Homo sapiens: one gene and its partners. The protein of the gene in region 2 purifies or fractionates together with the protein of the main gene of each other region. This does not show direct contact. Each region holds a gene or a part of one and is shown on either strand. Other genes may lie near its edges.

Evidence for each region.
Region 1: the proteins of MOB4 (region 2) and SLMAP purify together in Homo sapiens (affinity purification with mass spectrometry; 3 studies listed by BioGRID and IntAct, with this or other methods). This does not show direct contact.
Region 3: the proteins of MOB4 (region 2) and PPP2CB purify together in Homo sapiens (affinity purification with mass spectrometry; 6 studies listed by BioGRID and IntAct, with this or other methods). This does not show direct contact.
Region 4: the proteins of MOB4 (region 2) and STK24 purify together in Homo sapiens (affinity purification with mass spectrometry; 4 studies listed by BioGRID and IntAct, with this or other methods). This does not show direct contact.

What each region holds. Positions count from the first base shown.
Region 1 is NC_000003.12:57,856,198-57,864,673, reverse strand, and holds part of SLMAP (sarcolemmal membrane-associated protein), read right to left. Parts: intron 6,942-8,476; coding exon 6,846-6,941; intron 6,587-6,845; coding exon 6,515-6,586; intron 3,976-6,514; coding exon 3,835-3,975; intron 2,726-3,834; coding exon 2,588-2,725; intron 127-2,587; coding exon 1-126. UniProt on the Homo sapiens protein: Associates with the striatin-interacting phosphatase and kinase (STRIPAK) core complex, forming the extended (SIKE1:SLMAP)STRIPAK complex.
Region 2 is NC_000002.12:197,518,281-197,526,756, reverse strand, and holds part of MOB4 (MOB-like protein phocein), read right to left. Parts: intron 3,134-8,476; coding exon 3,071-3,133; intron 1-3,070. Other genes in the region: HSPE1-MOB4 protein, read right to left, coding at 3,071-3,133.
Region 3 is NC_000008.11:30,802,162-30,810,637, forward strand, and holds part of PPP2CB (serine/threonine-protein phosphatase 2A catalytic subunit beta isoform), read right to left. Parts: intron 1-8,476.
Region 4 is NC_000013.11:98,443,709-98,448,607, forward strand, and holds the end of STK24 (serine/threonine-protein kinase 24 isoform b precursor), read right to left. Parts: 3' UTR 4,610-4,899; coding exon of another isoform or gene 4,528-4,609; 3' UTR 3,110-4,527; coding exon of another isoform or gene 2,958-3,109; 3' UTR 2,498-2,957; coding exon of another isoform or gene 2,390-2,497; 3' UTR 1,477-2,389; downstream 1-1,476. Other genes in the region: FARP1 (FERM, ARHGEF and pleckstrin domain-containing protein 1), read left to right, coding at 2,390-2,497, 2,958-3,109, 4,528-4,609. UniProt on the Homo sapiens protein: Serine/threonine-protein kinase that acts on both serine and threonine residues and promotes apoptosis in response to stress stimuli and caspase activation.

The DNA of each region.
Region 1 (8,476 bases), on a different chromosome or scaffold from region 2:
TTGCAAAGCTTCTATTTTTGCCTGGAGCTCCTGTTCTTTTTCTTCCATTTCATCTATTTTATGTTGTAATTCTTTTTTCTCAGCCTGTCCCTTCTGTTGGATTTCCTCTTGTTTTCCCTCTGCTACCTAGAAAAATAAGAAAATTCAGTTATTTAACAAACCTAACTCTGTTTTAAGAGCGAGCCCCAGGAATGCCTTTATTCACTTAAACTTCTAAGAAAAGTTTGTTCTGTAGAAAAGAAATGTTCTACAGAACATTATCTGTAAACCTGACATTTCTTTCTTTCTTTTTTTTTTTGAGATGGAGTTTCACTCTTGTTGCCTAGGCAACCTCCGCCTCCCGGGTTCGAGTGATTCTCCTGCCTCAGCCTCCCAAGTAGCTGGGATTACAGGCATGCGCCACCATACCCAGCTAATTTTGTATTTTTAGAAGAGACGGGGTTTCTCCATGTTGGTCAGGCTGGTCTCGAACGCCTGACCTCAGATGATCAGCCCACCTTGGCCTCCCAAAGTGCTGGGATTACAGGCATGAGCCACTGCGCCCGGCTAACCTGACATTTCTAAACCAGTAAAGATGATAAAGACAAAGGCTTGATGTCAAAAATTATCTGCATTGGGTTATTCCTCCATAACACCCAGGAGAGAGAAACTTGGAGGAAGCAAGTAGGCTCAGTACACACAGAGGTAAAGGGTCAATGTGGAAAAAAAAATCGTATTTTTAAAGAGGGAAGTAAGATTTTTCCCTAAAATTACTATCATTTCAATTTTGAAGTTCTATCATGTTAACATTCTGAAATTTTAAACAAAATTATTTAGTAACGAGATGACAGTACAATCACTATTCAAAAAGACCTCTCTGCCTATAGTTTGGATGTTCGTCCCCCAAGCCTCAATGTTGAAATTTGATCCTCAGTGTTGGAGATGGGGTCTAATGAGAGGTGTTTGGGTTATGGGAGCAGATCCCTCATGAATGGCTTGGTGCTGTCCTCATGGTAATGAGTGAATTCTCACTCTATTAGTCCTATGAAAGCTGGTTTTTAAAAAGAGCCTGGCACCTCTCCCAGACCCTCTCTCACCATGGAACACGTACCAGCTCCACTTTGCTTTCTGCCATCAGTGGAAGCAGCCTGAAGCTTCAGCCTGCAGAACTGTGAGCCAAATAAACCTCTTATCTTTATAAATTACCCAGGCTCAGCTATTCCTTTATAGCAACAAAAATGGACAATGACAATCTCCTTTTAACAAGACCAACTTTGAAAACTATCATAGGTTAACCAACGGAGGTATGCTCTGGTCTTCTCTAACAAACACATATCTTCTAGGCACTCAATCCATAGTTTGAATTAAACCAAGATGGACCTTCACAAACAGTTATAAGATTTTTTTTTTCCTCAGTTATAAGATTCTAAAGGACCAACTAGACATTACCCTATCATTACCCTATGATCTGATCTGTCCTTATCCTAGATGTCTCATAGATAGAGGGAATGGCAGCTAAAGCAGAGTTAACAGCATCCCTGAAAGCTAAAAGGGAGATCATTCCCAGATTCTCTCTGGGCTTGTTCCAGCACAGCACTAAATAGCTGGGCCCTGCCTTTTAGATGGCCTAATGATAAGCAGTTTTAGGTTTTAAAACATCTGAATATCATGGGTTTTGCTGATTCTCATCTACTTCCTGTTATATATTTTAGAAATGTCTATTGTGAAGCACTGACTACATATTCATCCAGAGGAACTATGTCAGCATTTACAGGCTTTCAATTATCTATAGTAATGGAGGTTGGGCTAAATGGAATACAGACACCTTATTTTCACTATAAATTTCAACTGTTACCAAATTTTTACATCAATAACTATTCAGCAATACCTAAAATCTTTTTTTATAGAAATCTTATTTAATATGTAGTACCACCTACATCCTGCTTTCATACTTTCAGCATAATTTAACACATTCAAGGAGACTATGCAAATCAATTCAAAATATCTATCTATACCAGTGGTTTTCAAACTGAATTTTTTTTTTTTTTTTTTTTTTGTGAGACGAAGTCTTGCTCTGTCGCCAGGCTGGAGTGCAGTGGTGCAATCTTGGCTCACTGCAACCTCTGCCTCCTGGGTTCAAGTGATTCTTCTGCCTTAGACTCCCAAGGAGCTGGGACTACAGGCATGTGTCACCACGCCCAGCTAATTTTTGTATTTTTAGTAGAGACGGGGTTTCACCATGTTGGCCAGGATGGTCTCAATCTCTTGACCTCATGATCTGCCCGCCTCGGCCTCCCAAAGTGCTGGGATTACAGGCGTGAGCCACTGCGCCTGGCCCAAACTGTTTTTTGTTTGTTTGTTTGTTTGTTTTTCCTTTGAGATGGAGTATCGCTCTGTCGCCCAGGCTGGAGTGCAGTGACGTGATCTCAGCTCGCTGCAACCTCCGTCTCCTGGGTTCAAGCAATTCTCCTACCTCAGCCTCCTGAGAAGCTGGGATTACAGGCGCCCGCCACCCCACGCCCAGCTAAAGCAATACCTAAAATCTTAAGCTATCTAGTGTGTTAGGGATTATTAGCTTAACATACTTTCAGGCAGAGTAAATACATACCTTTAATTTATCAGATAAATCTTTAATCTCATTAACTGCTCCATTATATTTGTTGGCTAATTCTCTTAATTCTTCCTGAGTCCTTTCATTCATTTCTTTCAGATGGGTACATTCATCTTCAGTATTACTCAGACTTCGCTGCGATTCAAGTTTACAGGCAATTTAATTAGAATAAGTGTATATTTGTTATTTAGAATTCCTTCTAAATGAAATTTATAAAAAGTATAATTCTATGGACTATTCTAAATCAACATCTGCCCTGGACTTTAAATAAAGCTGAGTCAAATAACATAAGAATTTCAATTCACACTAAAACAGAAAACATAACTAAGAATTAACAAAAACAACAAAAAAATAAAAGTGGAGGGAGAGCAGGGGCAGGAAAAGGATGCTGCCTTTATATAATTACATTTTTGAAAGGCCAATGGGTATGACTTTTAGCTGTGAAAATATTTTAAGCCTATCAATCCTTGAAAGCAAGTTTAATAATATCCAGCAATCAATTTAATAAAAAATTAAAAGACACTTAGTAACTTTCTTTATATATCAAATTAATCACACAACAGTGAATCAGGCACTATGGGATGAGGTAGCAATACAAACTATACCTGTAGTAAGGAAAGGTATGTTTACCATTTAGTTTCTGATGAGCATTTTAACTAATTCTAGTAATACATTATTTATGTGGTAATTTTGCAGTGGTTCAAAGAAAAGATCTATATTATGAATTAGAATTTTTTTCCCCAAAGCAATAAAAATTGCATTTTGATTGCTCCTCCAAGACCTAGAAAGGACCTTGGAGATGATTTCACCTTTGAACTTCCTAAATATATGACACAGCTAGTTTTCCTCTCTGCAGAGTGAATTAAAAAAGAACAAGTAGTGTAGACTCTTGGCCTTACACTGACCCCCCTCAAATAGAAGCAAAGCAAAACCAAGTGACAGGAAATCAATTCCCCAGCACATATCATGGTCTGCTGTATGGAGGGTGAATCCTAAGCAGAATGCAAACAATAAGATTCCCTGGTTACGCTTTTATTTCCTCAGCCATTGACTAGGGAGTAAGTACCAAAACTCACATGGAGAATTGCTGTCAATGAAAGCAGCGTAACTGTTCCTTCCCACCTGACAGACAGAAAGTATTTCCTAACTATATAATAATACCCAAGTTTAAAGTATCCTGGAATGCTTGAGATTTTTTTGAACACTCATAATACTATTTAGTATTTTTTTTTTGATTGAAATACCTCAACTTCTGAAAGTTTTCTAACCACTTCAATTTTCTCCTGAAGAACCCGCCTCAGGGACTCTTTGGCTGTTGTCTCATAGTTATGTTTATCCTCTTGTAATGCTATAAGTTCCTTTCGTAAACTATCTTCTGTTTGATTCTACAATAAAAGATATTTATAATTATAGACAAGTTATTTTTTAAAAGCATTTATTGTTTGAAAAAAATTAACACATTATGATATACTTTAAATTATATATTAAGGTACCTCCAAACATAAATGATTCTGGCCCTGTATTAACTAAAGATGTATTTACAAGTTGCATAAGTAAATTATGCCTTCACAAACTTACTAATTTCCACTTCCTATAGAAAAAAAAAGTTATAGGCAATTGAGAATTTCCCTAAAATATACAAAATTAGTTACTTTTATATTTGTCATATTTTCTGCAAGCCACCATATTCACATTTGTAGGCAAAAATAATCAATTACCTTCAAAGGCACCAAGCATTCTGAAACAATGGTTAAAACAAAAGGAATAAGAGTACCATGGGGGAAAAGCAGACTTCATGTCTGGGGCAGGAAAAGTACAAAATGAGCCTGAAACATCTTGTCTGAAATGACAGCATGAAGCTATCACTCTGAAGACATTTACACAGACCAAAGATGGGATAATTTGAGCATCAATAAGAAAAATAGGCTGGCCGTGGCACTTTGGGAGGCCGAGATGGGAGGATTGCGTGAGCCCAGGAGTTCAAGACCAGCCTGGGCAACATAGCAAGACCCTGTCTCTAAAACAAGAAAAACAACTGCACCAGATTTAAATACATCAAATATGTTTAAATCTAAGTGGAGTGAGAAAACACTTCATGGCCAGTCTTTGGTAGATGAAAAACCACCAATTCATTATTCTGAAATCTAATAAATAAGGGGAGAAAATCACTTATCTTGCTTTCCCCGTAGAAAACATACCTCAGGGTTATTTAAATTTTTTTATTCCAATACCTTTAGAGATACAAGTGGTTTTTGGTTACATGGATGAATTATGTAGTGGTGATGTCTGGGGTTTTAGTGCACTCATTACCTGAGTAGTGTATATTGTATTCAATAGGGAGTTTTTCATCCCTCACTCCCCTCTCACTTTCCCAACTTCTGAGTCTCCAATGTCCATTATAGCACTCTTTATGCCTTTACATACCTATAGCTTAGCTTCCACTTATAAATGAGAACATGTGGTATTTGGTTTTTGATGCCAAAGTTACAAAAAACAATGGCCATTGTTTTTCCTTTTTTCGTTTTTTTAGAGACAGGGTCTCTCTTTGTCACCAAGGCTGGAGCGCAGTTCTGCGATCATAACTCACTGTAATCACAAACTCCTGGGCTCAAGCGATCCTTCCACCTAAGCCTCCCGAGTAGCTAGGACTACAGGTTATGTACCACTATGCTAAGCAAATCTTTAATTTTTGGTAGATACTGGGTTTTGCCATGTTGCCCATACTGGTCTCAAACTGCCCCCGCTTTTTTTTTTTTTTTTTTTGAGACAGTCTCGCTCTGTCGCCCAGGCTGGAGTTCAGAGGTGCGATCTTGGCTCACTGCAACCTCCACCCCCACCGGGTTTAAGCAATTCTGTCTCAGCCTCTTGAGTAGCTTGGATTACAGGTACATGCCACCATGTCCAGCTAATTTTTGTACTTTTAGTAGAGACGGGGTTTCGCCATGTTGGCCACGCTGGTTTTGAACTCCTGACCTCAAGCAATCCGCCTGCCTTGGCCTCCCAAAGTGCTAGGATTACAGGCATGAGCCACTGTGTATGGAAGGAAACTTCTCTTTATAGAAGTAACCCAGCTAAATAAGTGAAGGAATAACAGAATTACATCATTATTTTTGTAACTTTTTTGTTGTTGTTGTTGTTGTTGAGACAGAGTTTCACTCTTGTTGCCCAGGCTACATTGCAATGGCACGATCTTGGCTCACTGCAACCTCTGCCTCCTGGGTTCAAGGGATTCTCCTGTCTCAGCCTTCTGAGTAGCTGGGATTACAGGCATGTGCCACCATGCCCGGCTAATTTTGTATTTTTAGTAGTGATGGGATTTCTCCATGTCGGTTGGACTGGTCTTGAACTCTCGAGCTCAGGTGATTCGCCCGCCTCATCCTCCCAAAGTGCTGGGATTATAGGTGTGAGCCACTGCGCCCAGCCTTATTTGTAACCGTAATGAAATAATGGATCTAGCCTGGGATCATCAATGATTGATAAAAATCTCAAAAAGAAAGACAACTAGACATTATGTTGTCCCTTGGTGGAAGAACACAATACCATCCATAAAGTGTTGTTGACAAAAAGAAAAACTGAACCTAAATCACATCAAATCTCTAGATGGAACTACTACTTTATGGAGTGGGAGGGGGAGCTAAAAAATGTTTAAATAACAATGCAGACTGAGGGAAATTCTAGAGGACAAATGACCCAGTTTTTTCAAGAAATATTAACTGCAATAGAAAAAAGACAGACTTGTACATGGGTATTCATTATGTAATTATTTTTATTTACATGGATGTCTGACGTTTCTCAGCACAAAAGATTTAAAAGAATTGTGGAAATGTATGAAGTTTTTAGCATATACTCAAAATGATAGTCAAAGAAATGATGTTACATAAAAAACTATGCATTTCATTTTACACATTTGAGGTTAATACCTACTTTGGAGCATGCCTGTAATTGGTTTCCCATAACTTCTAACCGTGATAAGAGTCTATCTTCATCTATTAAAGCCTATTGAAGAAAAATTAAATGTAAGTAAAACCCGAGTAATTATAAAGTCACATGTATATAAAAAAAGGTTGCTACTGACAACAAAAGATATAAAAGCGTAAAACTGACCAGCATCCACTGTAAAATGCTAAATCTTCAACAACTTGTTCATTAGTTAGGAAATAACTTTGTCTTTGTTTGCTACATTTTAGTTTATTTAACATGTATGGAATATTAAACTATGTTTAAATGTTTCTTAAATATAAAACAACTGGAATACCTGCCAACTGGTATCTGAAGCCTCTTGGGTGATGGCTAGTAGCCGCTGAAGCGTGGCTAACTTCTGTTCCAACATTTGTTCCCGATGTAAGGCCTCCTAGTATTACAAATCACAAAACAGATTCTAATAAGCTCATCATGATTCTTTTGAGGAGTGATCAATTTTCAGCATATTCTAAAATATTTTCATATTACATCCCACTTGATGTATTTTAAAGTAGTGAAACTTGATAGTACTTTGTAAAACATACAGCAGTCCCCGCTTATCTCTGGTTTCCCTTTCCACAGTTTCAGTTATAGTGCAGTACAAGATATTTTGAGAGAGACAGACAGAATGTTGACATTCACATAACTTTTATTCACATAACAGTATACTGTTGTAATTGTTCTATTTTATTATTATTGTTAATTTCTTACTATGCTTAATTTATAAGTCAAACTTTATCATAGGTATGTGTATATATAGGAAAAAACATAGTAGATATAGGGTTTGGTACTATCTGTGATTTCAGGCATCTACTGGGGGTCATGGAACATATTCCCTGCAGATAGGAAATGGCTACTCCATGTATATGGGCCACATCATTTTAGTCTCATTTGTTGGGCTGAAAGTACTGCTATTAGAGGTTCTCTAACTGCAACTTCTCCCATAATAGAAAACAAGTCACCTGTTTTTTGTTTTCTTTTTATTCATAATTTGGAAGAGCAAGTTTTTAAAAACATACAATAGAAAAAGCTAACAAATGTTTCAGGTTTGCATTTTATACACACACACACATACATACACACTGTGTGTATGTAGACATATATCTATGCATACACACATACACAGTCATGCACCACAAAACAACATTTCAGTCAACTATAGACTGCATATACACAGTAGTCCCCAAAAATTACAATGAAGCTGAAAAATTTCTATCGCTTAATGACATCATAGCCATCCTAACATTGTAACACAAGGGGGCATTACTCACGTGTTTGAGGAGATGTTGGTGTAAACAAACCTACTGTGCTGCCAGTTATATAAAAGTATAGCACATATAATTATATATAGTACATAATACATAATAGTATTATATGACTTTATCAGTTTATGCATGTACTATACTTTTTATTGTTAATTATAGAGTGCATTCCTTCTGCTTATTAAAAAGAAAAAAACATTAACTGTAAAATACCTTCAGAGAGGTCCTTTAGGAGGTATCCAGAAGAAGGCACTGTTATCACAGGAGATGACAGCTCCATGCATGTTACTGCCCCTGAAGACCTTTCAGTGGGATATGATGTGGAGGTGGAAAATAGTGATAATGATGATCTTGATACTGTGTAGGCCTAGGCTAATGTGTGTGCTTATGTCTTCATTTTTAACAAAAAAGTTTAAAAAGTAAAAGCAAGTTTAAAAAATTTTTAATAATAAAAAGCTTATAAATTAAGAATAGAAACAATATTTTTGAACAGTTGTACTACGTGTTTGTGTTTTAAGCTAAGTGTGAATACAAGAGTCAAAAAGGTTTTAAAACTTGTAAGTTTATAAAGTAAAAAAGTTACAGCAAGCTAAGGTTAGCTTATTATTGAAGAAAGAAGAACTTTTTTTTCTTTTTTTGAGACAAGAGTCTAGGTCTGTCACCC
Region 2 (8,476 bases):
AGGCATTTAAACCATTTTTAAGTGTACAATTCAGTGGCATTAATTATATTCCCAATGTTGAGCAACCAAAGAAAACCCTGGGCCTAACAACTTCACTAGTAAACATTTAAAGAAAATACCAAACATTTAAAGAAAAATTAATGCTGGGCGTGACGGCTCACACCTGTAATCCCAGCACTTTGGGAAGCCAAGGCAGGTAGATCACGAGGTCTGGAGTTCAAGACCGGCCTGGCCAAGATGGTGAAATCCTGTCTCTAACTAAAACTACAAAAATTAACCAGGCGCAGGGGCGGGCGCCTGTAATCCCAGCTATTCAGGAGGCTGAGGCAGGACAATCGCTTGAACCCAGGTGGCAGAGGCTGCAGTGAGTTGAGGTCACGCCACTGCACTCCAGCCTGGTGACAGAGCGAGACTGTCTCAAAAAAATAAAAAAATAAAAAAAGTAAGAAAAAGAAACACATGATCATCTCAATAGGTGCAGAAAAAGCATTTGACAAAATTTAACACCATTTTATGATCTAAAAAGCACTGAATGACCTACGAATAAAGGAAACAACTTCAATATAATAAAGACCATATATGAAAAATCCATAGTGAACATCATACTCAACAGTGAAAAACTAAAAGCTCTCCTCTAAGATCAGGAAGAAGACAAAGATGCCCTTTTTCACCACTTTTATTCAAAGTAGTACTGGAAGGTCTAGCCAGAGCAATTAGGCAAGAAAAAGAAAGAAAACAGATCTAGATTGGAGAAGTAAAATTATATGACATGGGTCTCGTATGTAGAAAACCCTAATGATTTCACATCCAAAAAACCTGTGAGAATAAATGAACAAATTCAACAAACAGGACACTTCCCCCTATTTTTAAAGAGATAACCATCTGTACATTTTTCTTCAAAATTTAACCAATTTCTAGGCATAGAGCTAGATCTAGGTTTATATTCCTTTATCTTCCACAAGGCCTAACTCATTGCTAGCTATATCGTGAGAAGCCAATAAATATTTGCTGATTGAACAGCACTTTTTCTTTTTTTTTTTTTTTTTTGAGATAGGGTCTCTGTCACCAGCCTGGAGTGCAGTGGTGCAATCACAGCTCACCATAAACCCTTTCCTCCCACCTCAGCCTCCTAAGTAGCTAGGACTACAGGTGCACGCCACCTAGCCCAACCTTTTTATTTTTTACAGAGACAGGGTCTCACTATATTGTCCAGGCTGGTTTCAAACTCCCAACCTCAAAGTGATCCTCCCTCCTCGGCCTCCCAAAGTACTAAGATTACAGGTGTGAGCCCCCACACCCAGATGGGTGGTTTTTAATGCTCAAATAATTCAACTATATGTCTCTTTTATTTTCTAAGATCTTCAAATAACATAACAAATCCGAATAGCTGTCTACTTTTTTTTTTTTTTGAGATGGAGTCTTGCTCTGTCCCCCAAGCTGGAGTGCAGTGGCACGATCTCGGCTCACTGCAGGCTCACTGCCTCCCAGGTTCACATCATTCTCCTGCCTCAGCCCCCGAGTAGCTGGGACTACAGGCACCCACCACCACGCCCGGCTAATTTTTTTATATTTTTAGTAAGAGATGGGGTTTCACCATGTTAGCCAGGATGGTCTCGATCTCCTGACCTGGTGATCCGCTCGCCTTGGCCTCCCAATGTGCTGGGATTACAGGCGTGAGCCACCGCACCCGGCCAGCTATCTACTTTTATTATCTGGCTATCAAAATGAAGCCAAACAGCCTCGATTTATGGTATATTTTCCCTTTAAAAATGTTATCATCAGCCAGGGCAACATGGTGAAACCCCATCTCTACAAAAAATCAGCCAGATGTGGCAGTGTGCGCCTATAGTCCCAGCTACTTGGGAGGCTGAGGTAGAACAATCACCTGAGCCCAGGAAGTTGAGGCTACATTTTGCCATGCTTGAGCCACTGCACTCCAGCCTGGGCAACAGGGTGAGACCCCGTCTAAAAAAAAAAAAGACAGGTGCAGTGACTCATACTTGCAATCCCAGCACTTTGGGAGGCCATGGTGGGTGGACTGCTTGAGCCCAGGAGTTCAAGGTGGGCAGCATCGCAAAACCCTGTCTCTACTAAAAATTCAAAACAAAAAAAATTTAACCAATGCCTAATCCAATATACTAGTACGCTCCAATTTATATTATCTTTTTATTAGCCCCTTAATGAAATTGTATTTTTGTTTTTGTTTTTGTTTTTTTTTTTTTTTTTGAGACAGAGTCTTGCTTTTGGCCAGGCTGGAGTGCAGTGGCATGATCTTGGCTCACTGCAACCTCCGCCTCTTGGGTTTAAACGATTCTCCTGCCTTAGCCCTCCCGAGTAGCTGGGACTACAGGCACATGCCACCATGTCTGGCTAATTTTTTATGTTTTTAGTAGAGACAGGGTTTCACCATGTTGGCCAGGATGGTCTTGATATCCTGACCTAGTGATCCACCTGCCTCGGCTTCCCAAAATGCTGGGATTACAGCTGTGAGCCACCACACCTGGGCTATTTTTATTTTTTTAAGATACAAGATCTCACTCTGTCACCCAGGTTGAAGTACAGTGGCACAATCATAGCTCATTAGACCCTTGAAGTAGGATCAAGTGATCTCCCCACCTCAGACTCCCTAGCTACTGGGACTACAGGTGTGTGCCACCATGCCTGGCTAATTTATCTTTTCGTAGAAACAGGGTCTTGTTATGTCGCTCAGGCTGGTCTTGAACTCCTGGCCTCAAGTGATTGGCCTCCCAAAGTGCTGGCAGCCACAGTGCCCAGCTTAATATGCCATCTTAAAACAAAATGAGGGTTGACTAAACTTTTAAATAGGCATTCCATTAATTCAGTGGAATCTTCTCTATGCGAAAAGATATAAGAATACTTAACTATGTCAGAGGTAAAATGCTTAGGTTATTGGAGTTGTAAAAGGAACTATTTTGTTTTGTTTTGTGAAAGAGCACGCTTTATTGGGAAGCAGACTGCTGCACAGTGACCAACAGACAAAGGCCACCCAATGGGCACTTACACATCGTACTCCAAAAGACACAGGGTGAAAAGAAACTATTTTTATTACCTGTTGAACAGCTAGTGTACTGTCCATTTCATCAAAGGATTCATCAGGCCAATTATAGAAATCCTATAAAAATAAATTCACGGTTAAAGCACATACAAAATACTATTATGATTAACTTCAATTCTTAATAAAGACCCAAAGCTCACACTAGAGGGGAAGAAAAAACTTTTGCAATGTAATTATCAGTGAAATAAGGAAATAAATTTTATTCAACTTTTCTTTTTTACAGACAGGGTCTCACTCTGCAGCCCATGCTTGTGTGCAGTGGCACAATCATAGCTCACTACAGCCTCAAACTCCTGGGTGTAAGCAATCATCCCACCTCAGCCTCTCACCTTAGCCACCCTATTCTTAGGATTATAGTCCTGACCCACTGCGCCTGGCTGTTTAATGTTTTTTAAATGAATATTAAGATTTTATTTAATTGAACTATAAATTACGTTTTTTCCAATCACAGATTCCTCAAATACAGCTCCCATAAACCTTTAATGTATTACTTAATTGGGGAGACAAGTCTATCACTTTTTTATGATGGTTAAATATCTCTCAAAAAGTTACAATGAAAAAAAAACTCCAGACACCAAAAAGTAAATCAGATTTTTACCAAAAGAGAATATCTAGCATTAGTAGCTAATTTACTGCTCCATAATTATTATTATTAATATTATTATTATTATTTTGAGACCACTCTGTCGCCAGGCTGGAGTGCAGTGGTGCGATCTCAGCTCACTGCAACCTCCACCTCCTGGGTTCAAGTGATTCTCCTGCCTCAGCCTCCCGAGTAGCTGGGACTACAGGCACGCACCACCACACCCAGCTAATTTTTGTATTTTTTGTAGAGACAGGGTTTCACCATGTTGGCCAGGATGGTCTCAATCTCTTGATCTCGTGATCCGCCTACTTCAGACTCCCAAAGTGCTGGGATTACAGGCGTGAGCCACCATGATCGACCCATAAGTATTATTTTAAAAAGAAATTATAAATTATTATTCTCATTCCAAATAGAGTTTTGAATTTCTAAATCAAAATATGGGCACCATTAAAAAGTAATCATCAGACTGGGCATGGTGGCTTACACCAGTAACCCTACCACTTTGGGAGGCCGAGGCGGAAGGATCACTTGAGGTCAGGAGTTCGAGACCAGCCTGGCCAACATGATGAAACCCCGTCTCTACTAAAAATACAAAAAATAGCCGGGCATGGTGGCGTGCGCCTGTAATCCCAGCTACTCAGGAGGCTGAGGCAGGAGAATTGCTTGAACCCAGGAGGCGGAAGCTGTGGTGACTCAAGATCACGCCACTGCACTCCAGCCTGGGTGACAGAGCAAGACTCCATCTCAAAAAAAAAAAAAAAAAAAAAAAAAGGTAATCACCCATGGGTACAAAAAAAATAGAAAGAATGAATAAGACCTAGTATTTGCTAGCACAATAGGGTGACTATAGTAAAAACCAATTTAATTGTACATTTAAAAAAAACTAAAAGAATCTAATTTTTTGCAACATAAAGGACAAATGTGTTGCAGGAAGTCAGGGACCCCAAACTGAGGGACCGGCTGAAACCACGGCAGAAGAATGTGGATTGTGAAGATTTCATGGACATTTATTAGTTCTCCAAATTAATACTTTTATAATTTCCTATGCCTGTCTTTACTGCAGTCTCTAAACACAAATTGTGAAGATTTCATGGACACTTATCACTTCCCCAATCAATACCTTGTGATTTCCTAGGCCTGTCTTTAATCTCTTAATCCTGTCAGCTGAGGAGGAGGTATGTCACCTCAGGACCCTGTGATAATTGTGTTAACTGCACAAACTGTAGAGCATGTGTGTTTGAACAATATGAAATCTGGGCACCTTGGAAAAAGAACAGGATAACAGCAATTGTTCAGGGAATAAGAGAGATAACCTTAAACTCTGACCACTGGTGAGCCGGGCGGAACAGAGCCATATTTCTCTTCTTTCAAAAGCAAATGGGAGAAATATCGCTGAATTCTTTTTCTCAGCAAGGAACATCCCTGGGAAAGAGAATACACGCCTGGGGGTGGGTCTATAGACGGCCCCCTTGGGTATGGCCGTCTTCTATGGTCGAAACTGTAGGGGTGAAATAAACCCCAGTCTCCCATAGTGCTCCCAGGCTTATTAGGAAGAGGAAATTCCCACCTAATAAATTTTGGTCAGACCGGTTGCTCTCAAAACCCTGTCTCCTGATAAGATGTTATCAATGACAATGGTGCCCGAAACTTCATTAGCAATTTTAATTTTGCTCTGGTCCTGTGGTCCTGTGATCTCGCCCTGCCTCCATTTCCCTTGTGATATTCTATTACCTTGTGAAGTACGTGATCTTTGTGACCCACACCCTATTTGTACACTCCCTCCCCTTTTGAAAGTCCCTAATAAAAACTTGCCGGTTTTGCAGCTTGTGGGGCATCACGGTACCCACCGACATGTGATGTCTCCCCCGGACGCCCAACTTTAAAATTTCTCTCTTTTGTACTCTGTCCCTTCATTTCTCAAACTGGCTGATGCTTAGGGAAAATAGAAAAGAACCTACGTGACTATCGGGGCAGGTTCCCCGATACAAATGTTTATGGTGATGGATACCCCATTTACCCCCCTGATGTGATTATTATACACTGCATGCTTGTATCAAAATATCTCATGTAACCTACAAATATATACACCTACTATATACCCACAAAAATTTTAAAAAGAGAAGGAAACATCAAATAAACCAGCTTTCTGTTAAAGGGAATATTTTTATTTCTTCTTCTTTTTTTTTTTTTTTTTTTTTTTTAAGAGACGAGGTCTCACTTTGTTGGCCAGGTTGGTCTCAAACTCCTGGTCACAAACAATCCTCCAGCCTCAGCCTCCCAAAGTGCTGGCATTACAAGCATGAGCCACCATGCCCAGCTTAAGGGGGATATTTTTATAGAGCATCTTGCCCTGGTTCTGGAATTCTCTGTAGATAATACAGTTAACAGATATTCCCCTAAGTGATTAAGAACCTTTCCATTTGACTGATTTTTCAGAAAAGTTTACCTATGTAACCTCAGTGGGTAGCACAATGCCTGACACATCTTTGAAGCTCAAATGTCTCTGAGGTAAAACTTGGTGGGGAGGAGGTAAGAGTAAACCAATAATCTATAAACCTGTATATAAACCTGTAAAAACAATCAACAAAGATTAAGTCTTCAAAACCTTGAGCAAAAAAAGCAAATTAGAAGTAAACACAGTGTATATAAAATGAATAAAGTTTAGGCCGGGCGCGGTGGCTCACGCTCAGCACTTTGGGAGGCCGAGGCAGGCGGATCATGAGGTCAGCAGATCGAGACCATCCTGGCTAACACGGTGAAACCCCATCTCTATGAAAAAATACAAAAAATTAGCCAGGCGTGGTGGTGGGCGCAAACCCAGGAAGCGGAGTTTGCAGTGAGCCGAGAGTGCAGCACTGCACTCCAGCCTGGGAGACAGAGCGAGATTCTGTCTCAAAAAAAAAAAAAAAAGTTTAAGTGCAAGGCATACTTATGGATATAATGCATATATAGTAAAAGTATACAGAAAAGAAAAGGAATGATAGGGTAGAAGACAGAGAATGTCTTCCATAAGGATTCAACTATAGTAGCAATGTCCCCGTTTGGACAGTAGGTAATGAGTACACCTTTTTAAGTGTCTTAAACATTTCATCTTTTTTGAAATAGCTGGCCTATCTGGATGAAAATGAACTAATTTTATTAAAGGAAAATATCAAGAAATAAAACAATCTTCTAGAAATGGTTCCAGGATTCCTTTTCTTAGACATTATCTATTAAAGAGCAATTCTAAAATTTTTCCTATATGATCTAAAGTTTCTACCAATACTCTGTCTATTCTTTCCTTTTTAAAAAAACTAAGGAAGTTTACAGAATGTTGTTTTTAAAATATTAGAAAACACATGTACAGTTGGCCCTCCATATCTGCAGGTTTAATCTGCAGATTCAATCAACCAGGAATTGAAAATATTCATTTCAGGGGAGAAAAAAAATACAGAAAATGTTATATTGTTGCTGACATGTACTATGTACCTAGTTAGGTCTAAGATAGTTGCGTATGTACTAAACATGTACCGGCTTTCTTTTTGGTCATTATTCCCTAAATACAGTATAACAACTATTTACAGAACACGCATTGCATTAGGTATTATTAAGTAATCTAGAGTTGATTTAAACTATATAACAGAATGTGCATAGGTTATATGCAAACACTATGCCATTTTACTTAAGAAACTTAAGCATCCTCAGATTTTGGTATGGGGTGGGGGTACGGAGTTATCCTGGAGCCAATCCCCAGAGGACACCAATGATGACTATATATAGAAAAGATGTTGAGAATGAAATGTTTCGCCTTCTCATAACTGTGACATATTTTAGATGCCTATGAGAGACACCAAAAATTCAGCTTAATAAAGATTCTCATCTAATTCAACCAACAAACATTTATTGAAAACCAACTATGAAGCCCAGCGTGGTGGCTTGCGCCTGTAATCCCAGCACTTTGGGAGGCTGAGGCGGGAAGATCACTTGAGGTCAGGAGTTCGAGACCAACCTGGCTAACACGCTGAAACCCCATCTCTACTAAAAATACAAAAAAAATTGGCTGGGCGCAGTGGCTCATGCCTGTAATCCCAGCACTTTCAGAGGCCGAGACGGGCGGATCACGAGATCAGGAGATCCAGACCATCCTGGCTAACACAGTGAAACCCCATCTCTACTAAAAATACAAAAAAAAATTAGTCAGACGTGGTGGTTAGCGCCTGTAGTCCCAGCTACTCGGGAGGCCGAGGCAGAAGAACAGCGTGAACCCGGGACGTGGAACTTGCAGTGAGCCAAGATCGTGCCACTGCACTCCAGGCTGGGCGACAGAGTGAGACTCTTGTCTCAAAAAATAAAATAAAATAAATAAAAATAAAAATAAAAATAAAATTAGCCGGGCGTGGTGGCAGGCACCTGCAATCCCAGCTACTCAGGAGGCTGAGGCAGGAGAATCACTTGAACTTGGGAGGCAGCGACTGCAGTGAGCTGCGATCGTGCCACTGCACTCTAGCCTGGGCGACAGAACGAGACTCTGCCTCACACACAAAAAAAAAAAACCTCCAGGTGCAATGGCTCACGCCTGTAATCCCACCATTTTGGGAGGCCCAGGCGGGCAGATCACCTGAGGTCAGGAGTTCGAGACCAGCCTGGTTAACATGGTGAAACCCAGTTTCTGCAAAAAATTAGCTGGGCGTGGTGGCACGCGCCTGTAATCCCAGCTACTCGGGAGGCTGAGGCAGAAGAATCGCTTGAACTCGGGAGGTGGAGGTTGCAGTGAGCCGAGATCGCACCATTGCACTCCAGCTTGGGGGCAACAAGAGAGAAACTCTGTCTCAAGA
Region 3 (8,476 bases), on a different chromosome or scaffold from region 2:
TATATGCAATGAAGTCTTCCAGAAAACATGGGTTCTCTTCAGTTTTAATCTAATTGTGTAATCTTAAGGCCTTTATACCCTTCAGTTTCTTTTCCTGAGATCACAAATTAAACAATAATTTTACCAGAAGCCAAGTTTATTCCACAAAACAGCTCCCAATACACCACAAACATTCTGCACACCACATATTTTTTGCATATGAAGAACATGGCTGAGGAGATTATATACAGAAACATAATGGTTGTCTGGGAGGTAGGAGGGCAGGGGACAGGAATGGTGGGTAGAGTGCATTTGCTTTCCTTGCTACCTTTCTGAGGTGCTTGCACAAATTTTCTTTGAGACAGGGTCTCGCTCTGTTGCCCAGGCTGGAGTGCAGTGGTGTGAACGTAGCTCACTGCAGCCTCAAACTCCTGGGCTCAAGCAGTCCTCCCACTCAGCCTCCTAAAGTGCTGAGATTGCAGGTCTGAGCCACCGTGACTGGCCAATGCTCGAAATTTTAAAAAACAAATTCTGTATTACTTTTTCAAACGGAAAAAACCTGGCTTCTTAAACTTCAAAACAAATTCCAGATGGCAGTAATTATAAAATATCCACACAATGGAATTTTATTCAGCCATAAAAAGGAACGAAGTCCAGATACATGCTACAATATGGAGGAATCTTGGATATATTATGCTAAAAGAGAGAAGCCAAACACACAAGACATAACCCTGGAAATGAAATTCAAATCAAAAGTACACGGAAGAACCGACTGTGGGAATGCTGACAATGCTGCTGTTGGAGAGACTCCAAATATGCAGCCAGGAACTTAGCAACACGCAGAAACTTAGTGACATAAAGAAGTGAAAATCCAAACTTATTGCATAAATGAGGAAAATTGTTTTGGAAGAAGTGATGCTAGCAAAAATCTCTTTCTGTATTTGTCAGGAAAGATCACTTTTACTTCGGCTCCTAAATAAATCAGACGAACAGTTCCTAGGACTTTATAGGTATATTTAAGATTATCTCTTGTATCTCACTAGCTTTTGTTTTTTTTTAAGACATGGTCTTAATCTTCTTGACAAATACAGGTATTTCATGACACTGAAAGCACAAAGGAGGCCGGGGGCAGTGGCTCACACCTGTAATCCCAGCACTTTTGGAGGCCGAGGCAGAAGGATCACTTGAGTCCAGGAGTTCAAGATCACCTTGGACAACATGAGGAGACCCTGTCTCTACAAAAAAATGAGTAAAAAAAGCCAGGTGTGGTTGTGTATTCCTGTAGTCTCAGCTACTCAGGAGACTGAGGCGTGAAGATGGCTTGAGTCCAGGAGTACAAGGCTGCAGTGAACTATGATCATGTTACTGTACTCCAGCCTAGGCGACAGTAAGATCCTGCCTTTAAAAAAAAAAAAAGCAGCTTCCTGGACCTGCCCAAGACATGTCAATCAGTCTCTGGAATGGAGTCAAGGAACATGAATTTCCTATTTCTTTCCCAAGTGATTCTCATGTGCGCTTAAAGTTTATGGAAAAGATGGACAATCAGACTATACAAAAATGCTAAAACTTGCACAGTAAAAATTATACACACATATCACAAAGTAGAAAATAAGACCTTAAACATTTTTAAATGGCTAACTTTTGGAGAATTTATACAACCAAGAAAAGACAAAATACAATTTTTTTTTTTTTTTGAGACGGAGTCCTGCTCTGTCGTCCAGGCTGGAGTGCAGTGGCGCGATCTCCATCTCAGCTCACTGCAACCTCCGCCTCCTGGATTCAAGTGATTCTCCTGCCTTAGCCTCCCAAGTAGCTGGGATTACAGGCGCGTGCCACCACACCCAGCTAATTTCTGTATTTTTAGTAGAGATGGGGTTTCACCACGTTGGCCAGACTGGTCTCAAACCCCTGACCTCGTGATCCGCCCGCCTCGGCCTCCTAAAGTGCTGAGATTACAGGCATAAGCCACTGTGCCCAGTTGACAAAATACAAACTTAAAACAAAAAAAGAATATGCCAACTCAACTGGAAAAATCCCTCACATTGCACACACTCCACAATTCTGATAAATCTAGCCTTGTTTTCTTCATGTATTTTGGTATTGCCATTTATTATTATTAAGGTTCTCGTCCCTCAGAATTTGCTATGGAATAAAAATCTGTATAGTGAAGAATTAACCTCACCCGAGGAGAGGTCTGGCCTTTGCCCCTGGAATTTCCTGCTTGGTAAAGAGATCTCTGCCTGGGGGCTCTGACCTGCGGACCATTAACAATGTGACTCACGATGCGGACTTTGGATGATCCCACTATCAGTTTGGTCTCTGGAGGACTGGACACTACAGATGTCAGCCCCTCTTGTACTCTGCCCTTATGAGTCTTTTCCCTTGGCTTACTTTAAATTGTATTCATTCCCTGTAATAAACCATAATCATCAGTGTAACAGCTTAAAGTGAGTTCTGTGAGTCATTCCTGTGAATCACTGAACCTAAGAGTGGTTTTCGGAACCCACTGAACTAGTATATTGGTGCCAAAACTGAGGCAGTCCTGGGCAGTGTTCCCTGTAATTTATAGTTCACTGAACTTTATTTTTTGTCTGCTGTTCTGAAGGTACATCATGACTAAACTTTTGAAGATGGTGTCAGAGGTGAGAACAGTGTTAGGGACTGTGCCTTCTAACTCTCGCAAAATCCTTTTTAATTACAAAAGTAAACCACATTATAAAGAATTTGGAAGGTTTTCTATGACCACCCTATTAAAAAAAAAAGAGTCTCTTGAATTCAAGCCCATCACTGTCCCCATCTTCTGCTTTTTCTTGCCAGCAAGAATCAATGCCTGGTGTTCATTAATCGTGTCCCCTCTTCACAGCTGAATCTCTAGCACTTTGAACAGTCTGGTACATAGTGGTTCAACTAAAATCTGTTGAATGTACGGGATAACTACACAGTGGCAGCATTCTGTCAACCAATCCTCTCCTTTCTTCTTCACTGCCCACAGGAACAAGCGCCTCTTTTGCTACTCAAGCCAAGTCGAGAATACACTGAACCAATTCTGAGCTCTCATCATCCAGGACATAAATATCATGCGGAACTCTTTTAAACGAAGATGAAAATTATTTCCCTCTCTATAAGATGGGATTTTGAGCTGGGCGCAGTGGCTCACGCCTGCAATCCCAGCACTTTGGGAGGCTGAGGCAGGCAGGTCACAAGGTCAGGAGATCCGAGACCATCCTGGCTCACATGGTGAAACTCCATCTCTATTAAAAACACAAAAAATTAGCCGGGAGTGGTGGCAGGCACCTGTAGTCCCAGCTACTCGGGAGGCTGGGGCAGGTGAATGGCATGAACCCGGTAGGCGGAGCTTGCAGTGAACCGAGATGGCACCACTGCACTCCAGCCTGGATGACAGAGAGAGAGACTCCATCACAAAAAAACAAAAAAAAAGAGATTTTGAGCAAAATTAAACTACAGCCTACACACCGTATCCTGCATATTAAAAAAAATCCAACTATGCTAAAAAGTTAATTCAAATAAGCTTTTTTCTAAGATTGAATAGGTGAGAACACTTAAATTCACCACTGTATCCCAGTCTCAACATAAAAACGATTGTCTTTGTATAAAATATTCACTTAATAGATCTCCAATGGAGTCTTCCACATTTTTGGTGTAACATGATGCTATTATAACGCAAGTCAGGAATCTCAGGTTGCACCTCAGGATTGTCTTTTAATTCATTTGATCACAAAAGTATCTCAGTCAAAAAACAGTTTACAAGGAATGATGATAAATATTTCTAAATTACAAAGGACACAACAGCAAACCAGTTCTAAGCTTGAGTGCTTGAGCTCTCCCATTCTCTGGAAAGGAAACGGAATCTGTAATACACAGAACTCCTTCCCAGGGTTAATATGATTTTTTTTTTTTTTTTTTTGAGATGGAGTCTCCCTCTGTCACCCAGGCTGGAATGCAGTGGCGCGATCTCGGCTCACTGCAAGCTCTGCCTCCTGGGTTCACGCCATCCTCTTGCCTCAGCCTCCCGAGTAGCTGGGCCTACAGGCGCCTGCCACCACGCCTGGCTGATTTTTTTTTTTTTGTATTTTTAGTGGAGACGGGGTTTCACCATGTTAGCCAGGATGGTCTGGATCTCCTGACCTCATGATCCGCCTGCCTTGGCCTCCCAAAGTGCTGGGATTACAGGCGCGAACCACCATGCCCGGCCGTTAATATGATTATTAATGAAATTTAGAGTTGAAAAGTAACGTACAGGAACTATTAGATCACATTTGGTCATTAAGGAAGAAAAGATGTCTTCATACAAGTTTCTTTAAACAATCTGGATTAGGTTTACATTTCATTACATTTACTTGAAGGAAATCAGTTCAAAACAATAAAAAATTTCTATTTAACACAGACTCAGATTTCTTATACAGATTACTTCTGTAACTTTAATATCATTCTTCTTAGAAAAAACTACATTCAGAAAACAATCTAGGAAAATTAATTAAGCATTAATTCCATCTTCAATTTCTGGCATTTTCATTTCCTTTTACCAAGGAAGGGCTTCATTCACCAAGTCTTTTATAACATTCGTACTGAAGAGAAAAGACTGTGAAGAAAAAATTTCTGCAAGATCTTCAAATAAGAATAAAAGGCACACACGGCAATAAAAGCAGGCAATGAAAAGAAATTTTACATTGCAAATATCTTCACTTTATCTACTTAGGTAAATATCTTATGGCAAGGGTATATTATTGTTAAAGGGCAGTATTAAGTATTAAATATATTTACCTAGTCATATATATTTGACACGTCATATATAAAGTAGAGAAATGTAACAAAGTCCACTTTCCCGCCATTAGCAATAGTTCATGCTAGTCTAGTTTGGTTTAATTTCTTTACCTGTCCACTAAGAGGCTGGCTTAGCAAGGAAAACAATGATTTGTTCAGTCACTAGAATTGGGTCTTGACCCTCTATTTCACTGTAATCATGCCATTCTTCATTATACTAAGAAAGGAGCTATTTTATCACTGCATTTTAGATTTTATCAATGGACCACCAAAGCTGGCACTAATTTTTGTTCGAGGGAAATTAAAAATGGAAGTACCAGTTAGGCATTTTGCCTGTCAAGACCACTATTTTTATTTTTTAAGCTGTAATCAATCACAGAAAGTAATCTAAAAAAATTTTCTCAATTCACAAAAATCACTCATTTTTACCAGAATCTAATCTTCATTAAGATGGTTTTGGGTATTCAGGAACAAGCATACTATTTCACATTAGGAATGAAGTCATATCCTAAAGTTATTTCTGCTTATTTCAAGGCTAACGCCAGGACTTAGAAACATTTCCATCAGTTCAATATAAAATTTACATATTTATACTTCTACACAAGCCTCGACATTTTTCTCAATACGTACTTTATAATCATCAGAATAAAGATCTGCCAGCACACACATTGGCTGAATTTCCCTCCCCACCTAAAGAATCATCACCAAGGTTCTTCAGTTATAAAATTTAACAGGTCAAAGAGCTTAAAATTTTTACTCTTTCTGAGACAACAGTTAAATATAGTTCTAGTCACAGAGTGTCCTGAGCAGTGCCAGCCTGGCTCTCTTGGCACACAATCTTCTAAAATAACTGCATACTGCTGATGCAGGAATGAATCACAGAAGCAATTTCTCTGCACACACAAGAGGAGTCAAATTCACAATTAGCTTCAAAAGCTGGATTGCTAATTTAAGCTAGTGTTAAGAGCTAGTCTTCTCAGAAGACATGCCTTGCTATTTTATGCAAACAATTTTTCACTAGGCAGAAATTAACCTTGGAAGCCAGACACACCATACCATTCATACTCTTTATTTTTTGTAGTCATTCACCCACTGGCACTAGGATAGATTTTATTTTTGCAACTACCTCAAAATAGGCCTTTACTAGTACTACTCTGGTCTTGATTTCAGTGGACTCCTTCAGCTTTCTTTTTTTGGAGACAGAGTCTCACTCTGTCGCCCAGGCTGGAATGCAGTGGCGATCTCGGCTCACTGCAACTTCTGCCTCCTGGGTTCAAGCAATTCTCCTGCCTCAGCCTCCCGAGTAGCTGGGACTACAGGCACACACCGCCATGCCCGGCTAATTTTTTGTATTTTAGTAGAGATAGGGTTTTACCATGTTGCCCGTGCTGGTCTCGAACTCCTGAGCTCAGACAATCCGCCCACCTCGACCTCCCAAAGTGCTAGGATTACAGGGGTGAGCCACCATGACCAGCCGACTCCTTCAGTTTTTAGGCAATCTGAATTAGAATAGAAATTTAAGGAAAAACCACCATCATACGATGTAACTTCCTATAGAATAGTATTTCCAATAGAATAAAAAAAGGTATTTTTAAAAAACCCAAAAATTGAATCACAAGGATTAAAGATAGTTTATATAATTAGGTTTGACTCTTTATTTTTCTCATATTTTCTTTCTACATGCCTGCTACTCTTGCCCTAGAAAGGTAGGGCAAGTATTAAGTAGACCAAGTCAGGAGTAAAGATACTTCACACAACTGCTATTAATTCCAGTACTGTGTGGTTCACATAACAGGCACCACTACTTTTCAGGGTTCTATAGCCACTATATAAAAAAAACTCCTTTGAAGTATATTTACCAAAGAAAAGGCATATTGGCACATCTATTCATTTTGCATTTCTTACAAAAGAAAATGGGTGACACTTATGATTAAAACTTTCAGCCTTCCTTTAGTTAACATTCACTGCGTGCTTACTTCTCATTAGGACTTTACATGGCCTTTTTTTTTTTTTTTTTTTTTTGAGAAAACTGCATTCTGTCACCCAGGCTGGAGTGCAGCGGTATGATCACTGCTCACTGTAACCTCTGCCTCCTAGGGATTCTTGTGTCTCAGCCTCCCAAGTAGCTGGGAGTGCAACACTACGCCCAGCTAATTTTTTTTTTTTTTTTTAGTAGAGGCAGAGTTTTGCCATGTTGGCCAGGCTGGTCTTGAACTCCTGGCCTCAAGTGATCTACCTGCATCGGCCTCCCAAAATGCTGGGATTACAGGCGTGAGCCACTGTGCCCGGCCAATGAATATATATCTTAGCACTCACAACCAACCCGGGAGGATTGGTACATATTATCTCTGTCATAAGGAATCAGAGGTGCAGAAAGACTGACAGCTAGCAAGCTGTGAAGCAGGACTGGAACTCAGACAGGATGAATGCTACACTTGTTATGTATCAACAAGGAGGATGGGGTAGGGATATAAAACGGAACTAGAAACTAAGGTCAGAAAACATATATATGTATATATACTCATACATACACAAACCACAAAGCTAGGTCATAGCTGCCAGAAGAGGGCTGCAAAACTAAGCACGGCTCAAAAAGAGTAGAGAGAAATGAGTATTATCACACTTTTCCAACCCATTGGCAACTCCATCAATGGGGGTAGAGAACAAAGATGAATGAATTTCACTAACAAATTCATGCTTTGTGGGTAAGGACAAATATTCAAAGAAAAAAAAATGGGCTAGGAGTGGTGGCTCACTCCCGCAATCCCTGCACTTTGGGAGGCCAAGGCGGGAGGATCACTTGAGCCCGAGAGTTCGAGACCAGCCTGGGCAACACGGTGAGACCCCATAAAAAAAATAAAAAAATTATCCCGGTGTGGTGACACATGCCTGTGGTCCCAGCTACTTGAGAGGCTGAAGTGGGAGGGTCCCTTATGCCCCAGAAGTTGAGGTTGCAGTGAGCGGTGATTGCCCCACTGCACTCCAGCCTGACTGACACACCAAGACTGCGTCCCCCCCCCGCCCCCAAAAAAGGCTAGTAAGATACAAGAGATAATCTTAAATATACCTGTGAAGTCCTAGGAACTGTTAGTCTGATTTATTTAGGAGCCGAAGTAAAAATAATCTCTTTTGACAAATACAGAAAGCTTCCTCAAGTGATCGTTGACACTCCGGTGTGATTATTTCAAAGTACAGCAGTGGTACAATATTCTTCTCTAGAAGTTCATCTTAAAATTATTAGAAAGTCAATAGGGGCTGTGCACGAGGCTCGCGCCTGTAATCCCAGCACTTTGGAAGGCTGAGGGATCACTTCAGGCCAGGAGTTCTAGACCAGCCTGGCCAGCATGGCAAAACCCCATCTCTACTAGAAATACAAAAATTAGCAGTGCATGGCTGCATGCACCTGTAATCCCAGTTACTCGGGAGGCTGAGGCAGGAGGATCCCTCGAACCCCGGAGGTGGAGGTTGCAGTGAACAGAGACGGCACCACTGCGCTCCAGTCTGGGCGACAGACTGAGCCTCTGTCTCAAAACAAAAATAAAACAAAAAAAGGAAGTCAATGGGAAAAACTGATTCAACTAACACTTTACCCATAACTTCAAGTCTGTATTCTGATGCTCATAGTCAGGTTAACTGACTCAGATCATTTCAAACCTGTACATTTCACTTCGCATTAGAGCTGGAGAGAGATGTTTAAGGCATAAATTTTAAGACT
Region 4 (4,899 bases), on a different chromosome or scaffold from region 2:
AGAGGGCTGCCCAGCCTGTGGGCACTAGAGCCAGTGAAGGGCCAGAGGCAAAGCAATGCAAGTTGTCTTTTAAGGCTGGAGTGGCGAGACGGGACAGCAGGGAAGTTGTTCAGCAGACAGAGCGCAGACAGGACTGGGAGGAGGGAAGGGACGGGGTGCAGACAGGACCGGAAGGAGGGAAGGGACAGTGAGGCCAGGGAGTGGCGGGCACGGGGGTTATATTTGTTCCCCGTGGCGTCACTCGGCACCAACCTCAGACTGGGTGAGGCCACAGAAACATCTCCCACAGTGCGGGAAGCCGGAAGTCCAAAATCAAGCTGCTGGCAGGTGGGTTCCTTTGGGAGGCCTTGAGGGAAAATGTCCCCACCTGACAGCATCTGGTGGCTGCGGCAGTCTTCTTCTCGGGGGGTCCCCGACTCCACCCATGTTGCAGGGCTCCGGTCTGCCGTGTCACCAGCTGTCCTCCCTGTATCTGCACTCTAATATCCTCTTCTAAGGACACGGCTCGTGCTGGGCTTAGGGCTCGTCCTAGTGACCTTACCTTGACTCGATCGCATCTGCAGAGACCCTGTGTCCATGTGAGGTCACCATTGTAGGCACGGAGGGTTTGGACTTGTTGGGGGTGCAATTCAACCCACAGCAGGGTCTGAGGGAATGGGATCCAAGAAGGGAGAGGAGCGGTGGCCCCAATGAAGGGCCACGAGGAGACAGGGCAGGCTGGTCTGGTTCTGAACAAGGATGTTGACCCTCTCGTGAAGGCAGTGAATGGAGACAGGTCTGGGAGCCACCAGCATGGCCTCGGCCTCCTGAGTGCAGGGCAGGAGACTCATGGCGCGCAGGGCCCGTAACACGCTGGAGGCCAGGATGGACCCGACACAGGGGAGCGGGAGGCTCGGCCCGGCCGTGGGGAGCGAGGAAGGGCCGCTGGATGTGCCTATTGATAAAGAGGTTTCCAGAGGCTATTGGAATGGCCAGGCAGAAGCTAGAGAGCGCTAAGGAAGCTGCTTTGGAAACAAATGGGCCCAGACTGTGATGGGTGACATGTATGAACCCCACTGTGGGCTGGCTGCTGTGTGAAAATTATGTGAGTCAGTATGAAAATACCTAGGAAAGGGGAGTGTGCCACCCTCCTTGCTCCATGTTGCGTGACCCAAGATGCCGCATGGGCATCAGCCCAGCCCTGGCCACCACCAGGACCTTCTGGGAACCTGGAGCCTTGCATTTTCTTGTTCCTTTCTGCCACTGGGGGAGGAGGATGGATGGCTGGAGCTGCCTGCCTGGCCTGGAATGCCCTTTCTCCCCGTCTGCGGGGTCCCCCACATCCTGCAGCCCCTCACGGACCTACTGTCAGTGTCCATGTCTCCCACTGGACCCTCCCTGAGCAACTGGAGGGCAGGGACATCAGACCATTTGATCCCAGCTCCCAGCACAGAAGCTTAGTGCCAGGGGCACCCAGAGAGATGGAATGAGGCAGACTCGGAGGTCTGTATTTTTTATTGTGGTAAAATAGCTATACCACAATATTGGCCAACTTAACGATTTTTACGGGAACAATTCAGTGGCATTAAGTGCCTTTACAAGGTGGTGCAACTGCTTTGAGTCTCTGCTGGTGATGTCACTTTGGCAAAGGGACGAAATGAGCCACCAGTGCGTCAGGCCTGCTCAGAGTTGTTTGGAGGTAGCATGGACACAGGTGCCTGTCCCTGCCCCCTAGCTGGGCTGCAGCGCATCCTAACAATGCTCCAGGGGCTGGGCCGGCCCTGAGCCTGGAGGTGGGCAGGGCTGCAACTGCCTCCTGGGCCACTAGAGGGCATGTGGGAGCCACTCACATGCACCCCAGGCCCCACTTCCTGGGTAGGGTGCCTGGCCCCTCAAAACGAGTGCTGCTCTGAGCTTGTTGGGATGGATCTTTCCCTCCTTCAGCTTCCGCCTGCTGGCAATGCATGGGGTCCTGCGCCCCCATTTCTGCCTCGGTGTCACAGGGCACACCCCTCTCCCCTCAAGGTGGCTCTTCTCCTCAGGACACCACTCCCGTTGGATTTAGGGCCCACCCTACCCCAGTGTGATCTCGTCTTCACTAGTTACCCTGCAACGAGCCTATTTCCAAATAAGCCTGTGTTCTAAGGTACTGGTAGTCAGGACCTCAACGTGTCTTTTGGGGGGACACAGGGACCCCAAGATGCCCCACAGCAAGTGACAAGGGGAAGTGATGAGATCAGGGTCCCAGGACCTGCCAAGTCTCCCCACACACGGGGGAGCGGGGGTGGGGCCCACATCCTTCAGTCACGGACATGCCCCAGCCCAGGGCCCTGGTGCAGGGAGAGCTGCTCTCTGTGCCCTCCTGGGGCAGGTGCCCGCTGTGCTTCTCACAGGCCTCCTTGCCTTTCAGAATCAGTTGTCTGGAAACCTGCTGAGGAAATTCAAAAACAGCAACGGGTGGCAGAAGCTGTGGGTGGTGTTCACAAACTTCTGCCTGTTCTTCTACAAATCACACCAGGTAAGTGTCTCGCACAGGGCAGGTGGCCCTGGGACCTTGGGGGTGGCAGCATGAGGTGAGGGGGCCGCCCTCCTCTGGAATGACTCAGGCCTCTTGGGCTCCAGGTGTCACGGGGATGACAGGGATGCTGGCGGGGGGCCCTGTCCACCCGAGGCCCTCAACTCTAGGGAAGACTGACATTATCATCCACTGAAGGACAACTTCTGCCCTAGGAAGGGCCACCTGTCTTCTGCCTGGACAAGGGACGGGGGTTGGCTTTATCTACAGCTCAGTCCTGGCGGGACTTGCCACCCGGGCCATCACGTACAGGCAAACACTGGCTGCCATGGTCCCTTCCAGGCCCACGCCCGAGGAGGGAGCTGCCTGGGCTCCCAAGTCCCTGTCTGATGCGGGGCAGCAGCCAGGCCCAGCAGCAGAAGCTGACCCCGAAAAGCCACTTTGCTTTGTTTCCCCTTTCCAGGACAATCATCCCCTTGCCAGCCTGCCTCTGCTCGGCTACTCGCTCACCATCCCCTCTGAGTCCGAGAACATCCAGAAAGACTACGTGTTCAAGCTGCACTTCAAGTCCCACGTCTACTACTTCAGGGCGGAAAGCGAGTACACGTTCGAAAGGTAGACACCCCCTTCCCACGCACAGGGCCCTGCAGAAGAGGACCCCCTCTTCCAAACATCAGGATTTCTCCCAAGTCAGCGAGTGAGATGGCCCCACCCTTCCCTGCCAACTAAGCGTTTAGACCTGGGGTCCCACTGCCCGACACCAGCAGGCGATTCTGTTCTCATGGCAGAAAGTGGGGTCCCAACTTCCCTGCGCCCTTACCCTGCACGGTGTTGGCTGAGGCCCTAGACATCTTGCTTGGAGATCTCTGACATAACGTGTCCGGGATGATGAAGCTAAGCCCCAGTGAGACTGCCTACATGGTGTAATGGCAGGGACTGCAGACTTCATTTAGCCAAGAAAGAAATGCAACAGTCAGGCCTAAGACTGTTCCTGCAATTCATATTTTGAATAGAGATCCTGGGCCTCTGCAAATTGCATCCCCAAGCCGACTACTTGTGCAGTTTGCCCTGCTGAGCCCTCCTCGCCCCGGGAGGCAGAAGGGGAGGGGTCCTCAGCAATATGCTGAGCACCTCCTAAACAACATCACCTGAAAAAGGAACCTAGAGGAGAGCCATTCTCAAATCTGATCCTGGACTGAGCTCGAGAGCTGGGTTGAGAGCTGGGTTGATCAAAGTTGGGATTTTGCTATTATTGTGACAAAGGGTCCAGCCTTGCAGTCCAGATCCTGAAAGGCCTGGGACAAGGCCAGGTAATTTGGGGAGTCCGTCCTGCATTGTGCAGGATGTTCAGCGGCATCCCTGGCCACCCACTAGATGCCCGCAGCAACCCCTCAGTTGGGACATCTAAAAATGTCTCCAGACTTTACCAAATGGGACAGCATTGCACCCATTTGAGAAGCACCGGTAGAGAGCAAATACACAAATATATAAAAAGGGAGATTTGGGCGTGGTGGTGCAAGCCTGTAGTCCCATCTCCTGGGAGGCCAAGGCTGGAGGATCGATTGAGCCCAGGAGGTAGCTACAGTGGGCGATAACTGCACCACTGAACTCCAGTATGAGTGACAGAGCCAGACCCTGTCTCAAAAAAAAAAGAAAAAGAAAAAAGGAAGGGAGAGCTTCCACTAAGCAGGATGGGACACGTCCCGCCATTCTCTGCCATGTCCATGAAAATAGGAGGTAGCGTTCTCCCCAGCAACCAGAGGCCACCTCGCTCCTAACTGCTCCAATGGAGCGGGCAGTGTCACTGCAGCAAGGTACTTCCAGCTCCACACTGAGTGAGTGCCCAGGCCAGTGGGTCTCCACTGTACCTCAGGAACGCCTGGGTGCTGGCTGTTCCCTTGCTCTTCTGCTGAAGTGGCAGATTACCAACCAGGCGGCCTGACTTCACCTTGTGTTTCTGTAAGCGATGCCCACCAAAGTGTCAGGAGTCCGTCCAAACAAAAGGTTGACTAACTGGCGTTCCCGTGTTGCAGGTGGATGGAAGTGATCCGCAGTGCCACCAGCTCTGCCTCGCGACCCCACGTGTTGAGTCACAAAGAGTCTCTTGTGTATTGATGGCCGGACACACTCGTTTCCGCAGTGGCTGCTTTCCTGGAAGACGTTTCCTTTCTTCTGTATTAATGAAGCCTGGTAAAATTAACACCTGTCTGAAAATCAAAAACATGGCTTCCCAGCAGCTCTCCTGTCTCCACAGCCGCGTTTTTTAACCCCGACCTCTCAGCGTCTGAATGAACAGCGCTCCCACCTCCAGTCCTGGCATCCGCTGGGGGCGCTGTTCTTTAGCTAGTGCCAGTATTAAAACATTGTCATTACGAGAGTGCCAAATGACATCTTCCCTCCACCCT